Linked DNA regions of Homo sapiens. The protein of the gene in region 2 interacts with the protein of the main gene of each other region in a pairwise test. Each region holds a gene or a part of one and is shown on either strand. Other genes may lie near its edges.

What was found. The genes of interacting proteins can lie anywhere in the genome.
Region 1: the proteins of SUFU (region 2) and HDX interact in binary tests that used the Homo sapiens proteins (3 or more experiments, as listed by UniProt).

What each region holds. Positions count from the first base shown.
Region 1 is NC_000023.11:84,491,622-84,497,021, reverse strand, and holds part of HDX (highly divergent homeobox), read left to right. Parts: intron 1-5,400.
Region 2 is NC_000010.11:102,506,424-102,511,823, forward strand, and holds part of SUFU (suppressor of fused homolog), read left to right. Parts: intron 1-1,855; exon of another isoform or gene 1,856-2,483; intron 2,484-2,745; coding exon 2,746-2,880; intron 2,881-5,400. UniProt on the Homo sapiens protein: Negative regulator in the hedgehog/smoothened signaling pathway. Down-regulates GLI1-mediated transactivation of target genes. Down-regulates GLI2-mediated transactivation of target genes. Part of a corepressor complex that acts on DNA-bound GLI1.

The DNA of each region.
Region 1 (5,400 bases), on a different chromosome or scaffold from region 2:
TCATGATCATGAGAACAGCATGGGGGAAACCGCCCCCATGATCCAGTCATTTTCCATCAGGTTACTCCCTCCACATGTGGGGATTACAATTCCAGATAAGACTTGGGTGGGGACACAGAGTCAAACCATATCACCTCTCAACAAAGCAACAATTGGAAGAGATCCAGGCATTGTAAAATGTGGAAGAAGAAATATATTCTGTAATAGTGGGAAATATTACATTAGGTATTAGAATGCTCAGTCCTGACTCCTCATTATTCTAAGACAAAAGTATAGCCACATGAATTTATTTTTGAATATCTATGTTAGTTAATAAAGTAATGAGTCAGACACTTTATTTAGGCTCACTTCCATCACTAATAAATGGTTAAAAGATGCTGGAAGTCAGTTTGAGATTATTTTTCTTCTCTCAACTAGTAATACTGAATGCAGAGAGAAACATTTTGAATTCAGTATTGTTTGTGATATGGAGCCTCAGGTAGGGATTGTTGAATCCCTCCCTTGCTATTCAAAGTGTGTTCCATAGAGTGGTAGCATGAACACCACCTGGGAGATGCTTAGAAACTGCAAAATCTCCTGGCCCCACACTAGATATACTGAATCAGAATCCGCATTTTAACAAGACCTCCCAGTTACTTACTAATATGTATATTAATGTCTGAGAAGAACTGAAGTAAAGTGAAATCTTACTTCCTGTACAACAGAGACTTTTAAGAGCTGGTGGTCATAGAAACAAAAACTTGAATTTTCTTTTGTCTGTTTTCGCATTTGTAAAGAAATATGCGATCTAAGCATTCTCCATTATACATTGTATGACAAATACAGATCAGCTTTGTTCCATTCTGAAGTATGCATTGTATCATTAAGAGAAAAAAACTACACCAATGTCATAGGTAAAATCGCTAAGCCTCTGAGTATATCCACTCACATTGGTGACAGCAATGGCTTTACCATTGAAATGATATTTATCCTAATTACTTGACTTTTCAACAGAGTGTTACAGAAGAATATAGTTGTATTGGGTTCACTGTCACCAACATCCTCAAGGGGAATGGTATGTTGTCTCTTTGCTGCCATAATATATCACCACAAAATTATTGCCCTAGAACAACCCAAATTTATTATCTTATGGTTCCAGAAGGCACAAGTCTGAATGGGTCTTTTTGGGTTAAAATAAATATGTCAGCAGTACTTTCCTTTTTGGCACCTCTAGAGAAGGTTTTGTTTCCTTGGCTTTTCCAACTTTTAGAGGCTACCCCCAAAAACAAAAGCAAAATTTTTCCTACACTGACAAAATCTATCTTTGGATCTCTGTTTGAGATATTCTGCCTTAAGTATCTTTTGTTTTTGTTTTATTTTTTTCATTTGAAGAATAAAGGAGGAGTTTTACCTGTGGCTATCAGATTTGGGGTTCTACTCTATGAGACTTTTAAGTCATTATGCAATTTCTTTATTTTTATTTTTTTGACAAGAAGTCTGGAGCATGATTACATTATGCATTTTCTTACTCTTTAAAGTATTTGTGGGGATAATCCTTCATTATTTGATTGGCAAAAATATATATGTTTATAGTGTGTAACATGGTGATTGGATATATGTACACATTGTGGAACAGCTAAATCAAGCTAATAACAAATCAGTTACCTCACATACTTATTTTGTGGTGAAAACATGTAAAATCCACTCTCTTAGCAATTTTCAAGCATCCAATACATTGTTATTAACTGTAGTCACCATGTTATACAATAGATCTCTTGAACTTATTCTTCCTGTCTAACTAAAATTTTGTATTCCTTGATCAACATCTACCCAATCCCTCACTGTTCTCCAGCCTTGATAACTACCATTCTACTCTCTGCTTCTATGAATTTGACTTTTTTTTTTTTTAGATTCCACATATGTGAGATCGCGCAGTATTTGTCTTTCTGTGCCTGGCTTATTTCACTTAATATAAAGTCCTCGAGGTTCCCCTATGTAGTTGCAAATTACAAGATTATTTTTTCTTTGTCAATGCTGAATGGTATTCCATTTTGTATATATGCCACATTTTCTTTATCCATTCATCTGTTGATAGACACTTAGGTTGACTCCGTATCTTGGCTATTGTGAATAATACTGCAGTGAGTGAACATGGGAGTGCAGATATATCTTCAAGATACTGATTTTATTTCCTTTGGCTATATATTGAGAAGTGGGATTGCTGAATCATATGTGGTAGGAGTTCTATTTTTAATTTTTTAGAGACCTCTATACTGTTTTCCATAATGACTGTACTAATTTAAATCCCCACCAAAGTTGTACAAGAGTTTCCTTTTCTCAATGGGGATAAATTTATGCTTTCACATTTTCATTGTCTAAATACATGTGTGTTTGTATGTTGTTTCTACACTATATATGTGTATGTTTATATAATGTTACCTACTTACCACTTGATGGTGTACTTTGAGGGATATCCCCCTAACCTCTAATGTGTGACTAAATCTTTTTCCCCTTAATTTGTGCAGGTTGATGTAAAATCAGGAATGAGAGTTGTAAGATAATTAAATAGTCTATCTCTTTGTGTATGTACTTCCCTCATTAGTAAGTTAAAATACAACCTACATTTTAAAAGTATTAACAAGACTGTGATTTGCAAGATTGTGAAATGTTAGCTTTCAATGGTTGTGGCAGTACAAACACTCTCCAGTGAAACATAGAAGTGATTTACCTGCACATTTTTTAGGGCTAGAAATGTACAAAGAAACACAATTTATTGAAACAAAATTTACTCAACGAATATGAATGAATCAAGGTACTACTTAGCTCATTCGGAGACGCTGTATATCACTGGTCATTAGTGCCATATATCACTGTCATATATTTTGTATGGATGGATGCATGTGGGATTACATAAAAACAGAGCCAAAGGAAATAGTCATTCAGTTGAGTCCCTATTTATGTTTTTGTCATTCAGCTGTTTATCCATTTGAAATTGATCTTTTTACTTTTTTTTAGTATTTTTAATTTTTTTATTCTTAAATTTTGTGGGTACATAGTAGGTGTACACATTTATGGGGTACATGAGATATTTTGATATAAGCATGCAGTGCATAATAATCACATCATGGAAAATGGGCTATCCATTCCCTTAAGCGTTTATCCTTTGTGTTACAAACAATTCAGTTATACTTTTTTAGTTATTTTAAAATATATAATTAAATTATTTTGACTATAGTCACCCTGTTGTGCTATCAAATACTAGGTACTTATTCTTTCTGATATCTGATGGTATGATTAGGTATTTATAGTTTTAGGTGTATATTATTTGAACACATTACCATGTGAATAAAGCAAGTGTCATTAAAGGCTAATACATTTTTATCATTGATTAAACATTCTGAGATCCAGTATATTTACTTGCTAATGCATTTATTTGGTAGAAGCTTTCTTTAGAATTTAGTCATTAGGGATGTAGCTATAGACATATATGTCCCTTTATATTTTCATATATTTATGTGGAGTATGTGTACATAAAATTTTCTTGCAATTTGTGTTCATGTCACTATGAATATGTTTTATGTAGCTGGCAAAACTGAATATTAATTACATAATTTTAAGTGTGTTTTAAAGCGAGGTCAGTGAACAATTTCTTTGTGCCCTGAGAAAATCATATGATAAGTTTTTATTAAAATCTCCTTTTGTTTCTATTTTCACCTAAGCAATATAAGTTAGTTTTATCTCTAAAAAGACAGATAAGAGATGTGTACAATACATTTCAGTAAATTCTAGCTTAATAAACAGATAATATACTCTCATAGTATTAGAATAAACAGATGTCTGTCACTAGACTTTATGCTTTGAAGATGCTGGAATTTATTTTTTACAATATCTAAAAACTTGGTGAGATGATTTTAAAATAAAGTAAATAGAGAGGTGAATCCCCATCTCTACTAAAATACAAAAATTAGCCGGGCATGGTGGCCAGTGCCTGTAATCTTAGCTACTCGGAGGCTGAGGCAGGAGAATTGCTTGAATCCAGGAGGTGGAGGCTGCAGTGAGCCGAAATCGCGCCATTGCACTTCAGCCTGGGCAACAAGAGCGAAGCTCCATCTCAGAAAAAAAAAAAAAAAAGCTTTTTGTAATATTAAATTTGTACTAAAAAATTCTGGAGTGGCTTCCATGCATATGTGGACACGATGCTATTTGTTGGGCTTAACTTTCACATTCTTAAACATTTTGAAAGATTAAACTCTTATTGCATAGACAGGGATCTCAGGATCAGTCTTTTTTTTGCCATCATAATATCATAATGTACATATCCTTCATTTGAGGTTCATATATAAATTGTGTAGGAGTGGATTGATGTACTTTAAAAGAGTTATTCGCAGTACTGATGGCCAGTTGATGATATGTTAACTAGTAACAAAAATAGGCTTGGCGTAGCACATTACAGTTTATTAAGTATTTTAATGAAGATGACACATCATTTGAAGAAGAATAGGACAGGTTTTATAGTCCCATTTTCCAGATGAAGGAACTGAGGTTCCAGAGGTCAATTATCTCTGCTAAAGTCACAAGACTAGCAAGTAATGAAGCTTAAGAGCTTAATAGGATGGAGGTATCCAGACTCCTAAAGCATTCCCACTCCACCACTCCAAAAGGTCACCTGAATTTCTGCTTGTAGCAATGATGAAGTAACAGTAACAGGATTTCCTCTTTTACCTTAAATATCTAAACACAAACAAACAAACAAACAAAAACAGAAAAAAATAGAAAATAATGAATTTTAGACCTTTGACAAAAGGCAGCACAGGACCATGATTCTTGAGAGAAGGGAGACAAGATGAGCCTTATGAATGTCCCAACTTACTGCCTTGGGAAAGTTTCCAGACAATAGCTCAGGTGAAAGGAGCCCAAAAAGGCTAGGAGTCTCTCTGTGTTGAGAAGACATAGTTCAGAGTTCAGAAAGTACAAGGGTGCCTACAATTTGAGGAACAGTGTACTGGAGAGAACATTGCACAGTGAAGGAGAAAACTGCATATGGAGAGAGCTTCAGAAATCTGCTGAGGGACCCTTCAAGTTTCTGAATAATGATCAGCTCAAGTGTGTGATGAAACTGATGAGGACAGAGAAAGAACCACAATAAAGAAACAGGCAAATCAATCCTCAGAACTCACGGAGGACCAGGAATAGTTATGTTCCCACTAGCCAGATTGGAAAACATCATATTTCAAGAGGCATTTAAAAAAGTCCTCACAAGGGTATTGCCTGAGTAATGGAGCAAATTAGATCTAGAATAAAGGCAATTCTAGATTTGCCTGACAAAAGCAAACTTCAAAAGAACCAAACCAATTCCTAGTAACTTAAATATATCCCCAAACAAAGGCAAACATATTCAAATACTACAAAAACAGACAGTAC
Region 2 (5,400 bases):
GCTGGAGTGCAGTGGCACGATCTTGGCTTACTGCAACCTCTGTCTCCCGGTTTCAAGCGATTCTCGTGCCTCAGCCTCCCAAGTAGCTGATATTACAGGCACACGCCACCTTGCCCAGCTAATTTTTGTATTTTTAGTAGAGGCAGAGTTTCACCATGTTGGCCAGGCTGGTCTCGAACTCCTGACCTCAAGTGATCAACCCACCTCGGCCTCCCAAAGTGCTAGGATTACAGGCGTGAGCCAGTGCGACCAGCCATCAGTGACTGGTACTTTCTAAGATGTGGAGGGGTTTGCAAAAATAAGATCCTGAAATTCATTTATATTCCTCACATTTGGGATCCCACGAGGTTTCTAGCAGGATGACTGACCCAGGCTGTCTGGGTCTGTCTGTGGCCCAGGGTAGCTTGGGATTCATTTTGCAATAGCAGTGTGGCTCTGTGACTGGTGATCCCTGAGTAGTGGGGACATTCTAACTGAAAGCTGAGACTTTGGTGAGCAAGGATCAAAGCAGAGAGGCAGAACCTGTACTCATGGCCCACTTCAGTCCTGCAACTGCCCTGCAGAGAGAAGTTGGGTGTTCAAGGAATTAAGTTGAGGGATGCCCTGGGACCTTGGATAACATCATTTGCTAAGTGTAAAATGCGATTTTTTTCCACATACTCATCTGGCCTCTGAGTAGTAAGTAAACAGAATACTCTGTGCTTGGGGACAGGGTTAATTTTATCTGACTCTTGGTAGTTCCTTGCAGTTGGAGTTTGAAGGTTAAGCTTCTCTCCTTGATGTGACACCTTGTGGGAGACTTGGTGAGAAAGAGGGCTGCAGGGATGCTGCAGATGGAGCAGAGAATGGTAAACACAGTTTTGCAGCTTGGTGCAGGATGGACCTAGGCTGTAGCGGGGCAGGTTTGGAAATTTGCAGCAGGAAACTGGAGCAGGTATGGGGCCTGTAGTGGCTCTCATCTGCTCTGGAGTTCTGTAGCTCTAATGGGGTCTTTCCAGGGATCTCTACTCTTTTCTTTCTTCCCTTGCCCCACAAACTTTTCTAAATCCAACCTGTTGTAGAATTAGTCAAGTGATTTGTTGAAATCAGTTAAGGCAGACATGGAGAGTTGTCCCTCTTCCTCTGTTGAGATGCTAAGCTATTTGTAGCAACTTTCTTAAAAGTTCTATAAATAACTTAGCATTTCCTAACAGAGAATAGGGATTTCTATCCACAAAGGCAAATAATATCCTGGTGAAAGAGGACGAAACAAGACCAACTGGTTTTAAATAGTGTTTAAATTGCCTGGTGCTGGCACCATTGACTGGGATCACTTGTAACATGTCTTTTATTTGGTTGTTAGCTTTCCACCAGCATGCTATCCCAGTTGCAAAGTGTACTCCATCGATGTCCCAGGGGCAGGTGAAGCTTTTGCAGTCTGTGGAATGGTCAGATGTTTGAGGCAGCTCAAATGCCGTGTTTGTGGGCTAAATGCAGACTTCCTTCCACTGATGGTTTCTATTTGGTCTATTTCTCTAGCTACCAAAATTTCTTATCCATTTTTTTTTTTTTTTTTTTTTTTAGACAAAGTCTCACTCTGTCACCCAGGCTGGAGTGCAGTGGCGCAATCTTGGCTCCCTGCAACCTCTGCCTCTGTTGTCCAGGCGATTCTCCTGCCTCAGCCTCTCAAATAGCAAATAGCTGGGATTACAGGCACCTGCCACCACACCTGGCTAATTTTTTGTATCTTTAGTAGAGATGGGGTTTCACCATGTTGGCCAGGCTGGTCTCAAACTCCTGACCTCAAGTAATCCACCCACTTCGGCCTCCCAAAGTGCAGAGATTACAGGTGTGAGCCACCGTGCCCGGCCAAAACAGGATTTTTTTTAAAAAGCACTGATTACTAAAGGGAACTCTTATTGTATTAAATCCTCAGAGTGAGATAATAACTGAATCTCTTCCGCAACTCCTTCTCAGTTGAATGGTGGGGGAAATTTAATGTGGTCCTGAGAGGCCCCAAATCATTTACCATCCCAGCTCTACCTTTGATGTGGCAGTCTCTCCTGGGATCATTTTCTGGGTGCAGATGCTCACAGGGCGCAGTTTGACTCCTTCTGCAGTTCTCTGTGCAGAACTAAGTTAAGCCTAAGTTTGGCCTTTGTCACTTGCAATGATAAGAGACCAGCTTTGGTCTATGGGGTGCAGGCTGGTGTCAGCACAGACTAGAGGCTTTGGGTTTGTTTAGAACAAACTGTAATTAACATAGGGCACAATATAGTCTTTCAGGAATTAGCTGTCTAAGAGGCTGGAGTGGAGCAGAGCCTCTGCTTCCAGGAACAATGCCCATTGGGGATGCTTGGGATGGTCTTTCAACAGAGGCCAATTGATTGACTGATGTACCTCTTGCCTTGAAGCTTGGCATGTATACAGGCACCACAGAAGAGAGACAATCCCTGCCAATCTCATTTGGGATCGGTAATTTGAAACAGGAGAAAGCAAAATGGGTAACCATCCAGTCTGTTTTATTTCTAAAAGAGGCCCAGTCTTTCAGGGGTAGGAGAAGGGAGCCTCTTGGGCTTGCAGAGTTGGGCAGCCTTAGCTGTCCATCCCTTAGTCTCATTCTGGAGAGATGTGGCCTCTGTTTAGTTACCTTTCACCCAGGTTCCTCCAGGATGGGTCCTTTAGGTTTACAAAGTAGAGCGCCTTAGCTTGACATTGTCTGATTTCCAGGCTTACACTAACACCCCTGTGTTTTGTTTTTTGCAGGTTGGGTGGCCCAGACCCCTTGGACTATGTTAGCATGTACAGGAATGTGGGGAGCCCTTCTGCTAACATCCCCGAGCACTGGCACTACATCAGCTTCGGCCTGAGTGATCTCTATGGTGACAACAGAGTCCATGAGTGAGTATATGCCACCTGTTCTTTATCCAGAGCCTTATTCCTGAGGTCTTCCTGAGCAGGGGTGACAATGTCATAGTGCTGTGAGCATGGTACTTCTCCGTGGAACCTCTGCATTTCTGCCCTCTGACTATATCTACTCATGCCAAGGTGGTCCTCGTTAACACCTGATTCCTGCTTATCTAGTGCAGGAAAGTCTTGATGAGCAGGATTCCCAAATCAGGTTTTTCTAAGCTTGCCCTGGAGTTTGGGCTCATAGGACAGGAAGGTAGCATGGTTATGACTCAGAACTTGGGCTGATGCCTCTGTGTCTACTTCCTTTTATTCCCCTAGCTTATTATGAAACATTTTAAACATAAAGCAAAGTTGGAAGGATTTTATAGTGAACACTCATATACCCACAACCCAGATTCTACTGTTAACTTTATACTTGCTTTATCACAAATCTGTTCATCTCTTATCCTTTATCTATCTTACCTACTTCCTTTTAACCTGTATTTATTTATTTTTTTATCTTAGTCTGCTTCCGTTTGTTGCCCTATATGCTTTTTTTTGGAGATAGGGTCTCACTCTGTCATCCAGGCTAGAGTGCAGTGGTATGATCATGGTTCACTGCAGCCTCGACCTCCCTAGGCTCAGGTGATCCTCCAACCTCAGCCTCCCGAGTAGCTGGGACGACAGGCAAGCACCACCATGCCCAGCTAATTTTTGTAATTTTTTTGTAGAGACAGGGTTTCACCATGTTGCCCAGGCTGGTCTCAAACTCCTGGGCTTAAGCAGTTCTTCCACCTCAGCTTCCCAAAGTGTCGGGATTATGGGTGTGAGCCACTGTGCCCAACTCAGAGTTCATACTGTTAATGACTGTATTCTCTTGCCTTTTGAGCAATTATATCATGTACTCCAATAAGCTACCAACTATTTTTTTTAGAAACAGAGTCTCGCTTTGTTGCCCAGGCTGGAGTGCAGTGGGGTGATCTTGGCTCACTGCAAGCTCCACCTGCCGGGTTCACGCCATTCTCCTGTCTCAGCCTCCTGAGTACCTGGGACTATAGGCACCCACCACCACGCCCAGCTAATTTTTGTATTTTTAGTAGAGACGGGGTTTCACCATGTTAGCCAGGATGGTCTTGATCTCCTGACCTCGTGATCTGCCTGCCTCGGCCTCCCAAAGTGCTGGGATTACAGGCGTGACGACTGTGCCCGGCCTGCTACCATCTATATTTTAAAAAGATTTTTTTTGGCTGGGCACAGTGGCTCATGCCTGTAATCCCAGCACTTTGTGGGGCTGAGGCAGGTGGCTCACTTGAGGTCAGGAGTTCGAGACCAGCCCGGCCAACATGGTGAAACCTTGTCTCTACTAAAAATACAAAAAATTAGCCAGGCATGGTAGCATGTGCCTGTACTCCCAACTACCCCGGAGGCTGAGGCACGAGAATCACTTGAACCTGGGAGGCAGAGGTTGCAGTGAGCTGAGATCGTGCCACTGTGCTCCAGCCTGGGCAACAGAGTGAAACTGTGTCTTAAAAAAATAATAATTAGGCTGGGTGTGGTGGCTCACGCCTATAATCCCAGCACTTTGGGAGGTCGAGGCAGGCGGATCACCTGAGGTTGGGAGTTTGAGACAAGCCTGACCAACATGGAGAAACCCTGTCTCTACTAAAAATAATAAAATTAGCCGGGCGTGGTGGCACATGCCTGTAATCCCAGCTACTAGGGAGGCTGAGGCAGGATAATTGCTTGAACCTGGGAGGAGTAGGTTGCAGTGAGCCAAGATTGTGCCATTGTACTCCAGCCTGGGCAACAAGAGTGAAACTCCATCTCAAAAAAAAAAAAAAAAGTAATAATAATAATAATAATAATGAAAATAAACAAAGTTTTTTTTATTTATATTCTTTTGATGGAGAGTTTCTTTTCTTCAATTTAAATGTAATCTTTCTATGTTTGTATTCTGTCAATTAAAAATAAAATAAATAGTCTTCCCTCAACCTCATTAGCATGGTTAATCAAGAGCTGATTTTATTTGTATTGTCATATCCTCTTCTGGTTTTTGCCTTTTGTACTTTTTTGCCCCTTATACCATGTCTTTTCTATCTTGGTGGTGGCTGCTTAACCTGGGCAGGTTGAAAGAGTAGCAGGACTCGTCCTGTCCTGCCTTTGCATAGCGACCAATTCTGGAGATGATGATGGTATCATAAAGAAGATGATGATAGCCTTTTTTCCCTTTGTTTAGTACTTACTGTCTTCCGTGTCATTGTGTTAAATGCTTTACAATCTTATCAGGGTCTCGTTATTCCTATTTTATAGATAAGAAAAATGAGTCTCTTGAGGGGTTAAATGAATTGCTAAAGTTACAGATCTAGGGGTAAAAGAGCTGGGATTGAATTGGGCTGTTTGAGTCCAAAGTTTGAGCTTTTTTGTTTTGTTTTTTGAGACAGGGTCACGCTCTGTCACCCAGGCAGGAGTGTAGTGGCTCAGTCATGGCTCACTGCAGCCTCAACCTCCTGGGCTCAAGCAATTATCCCA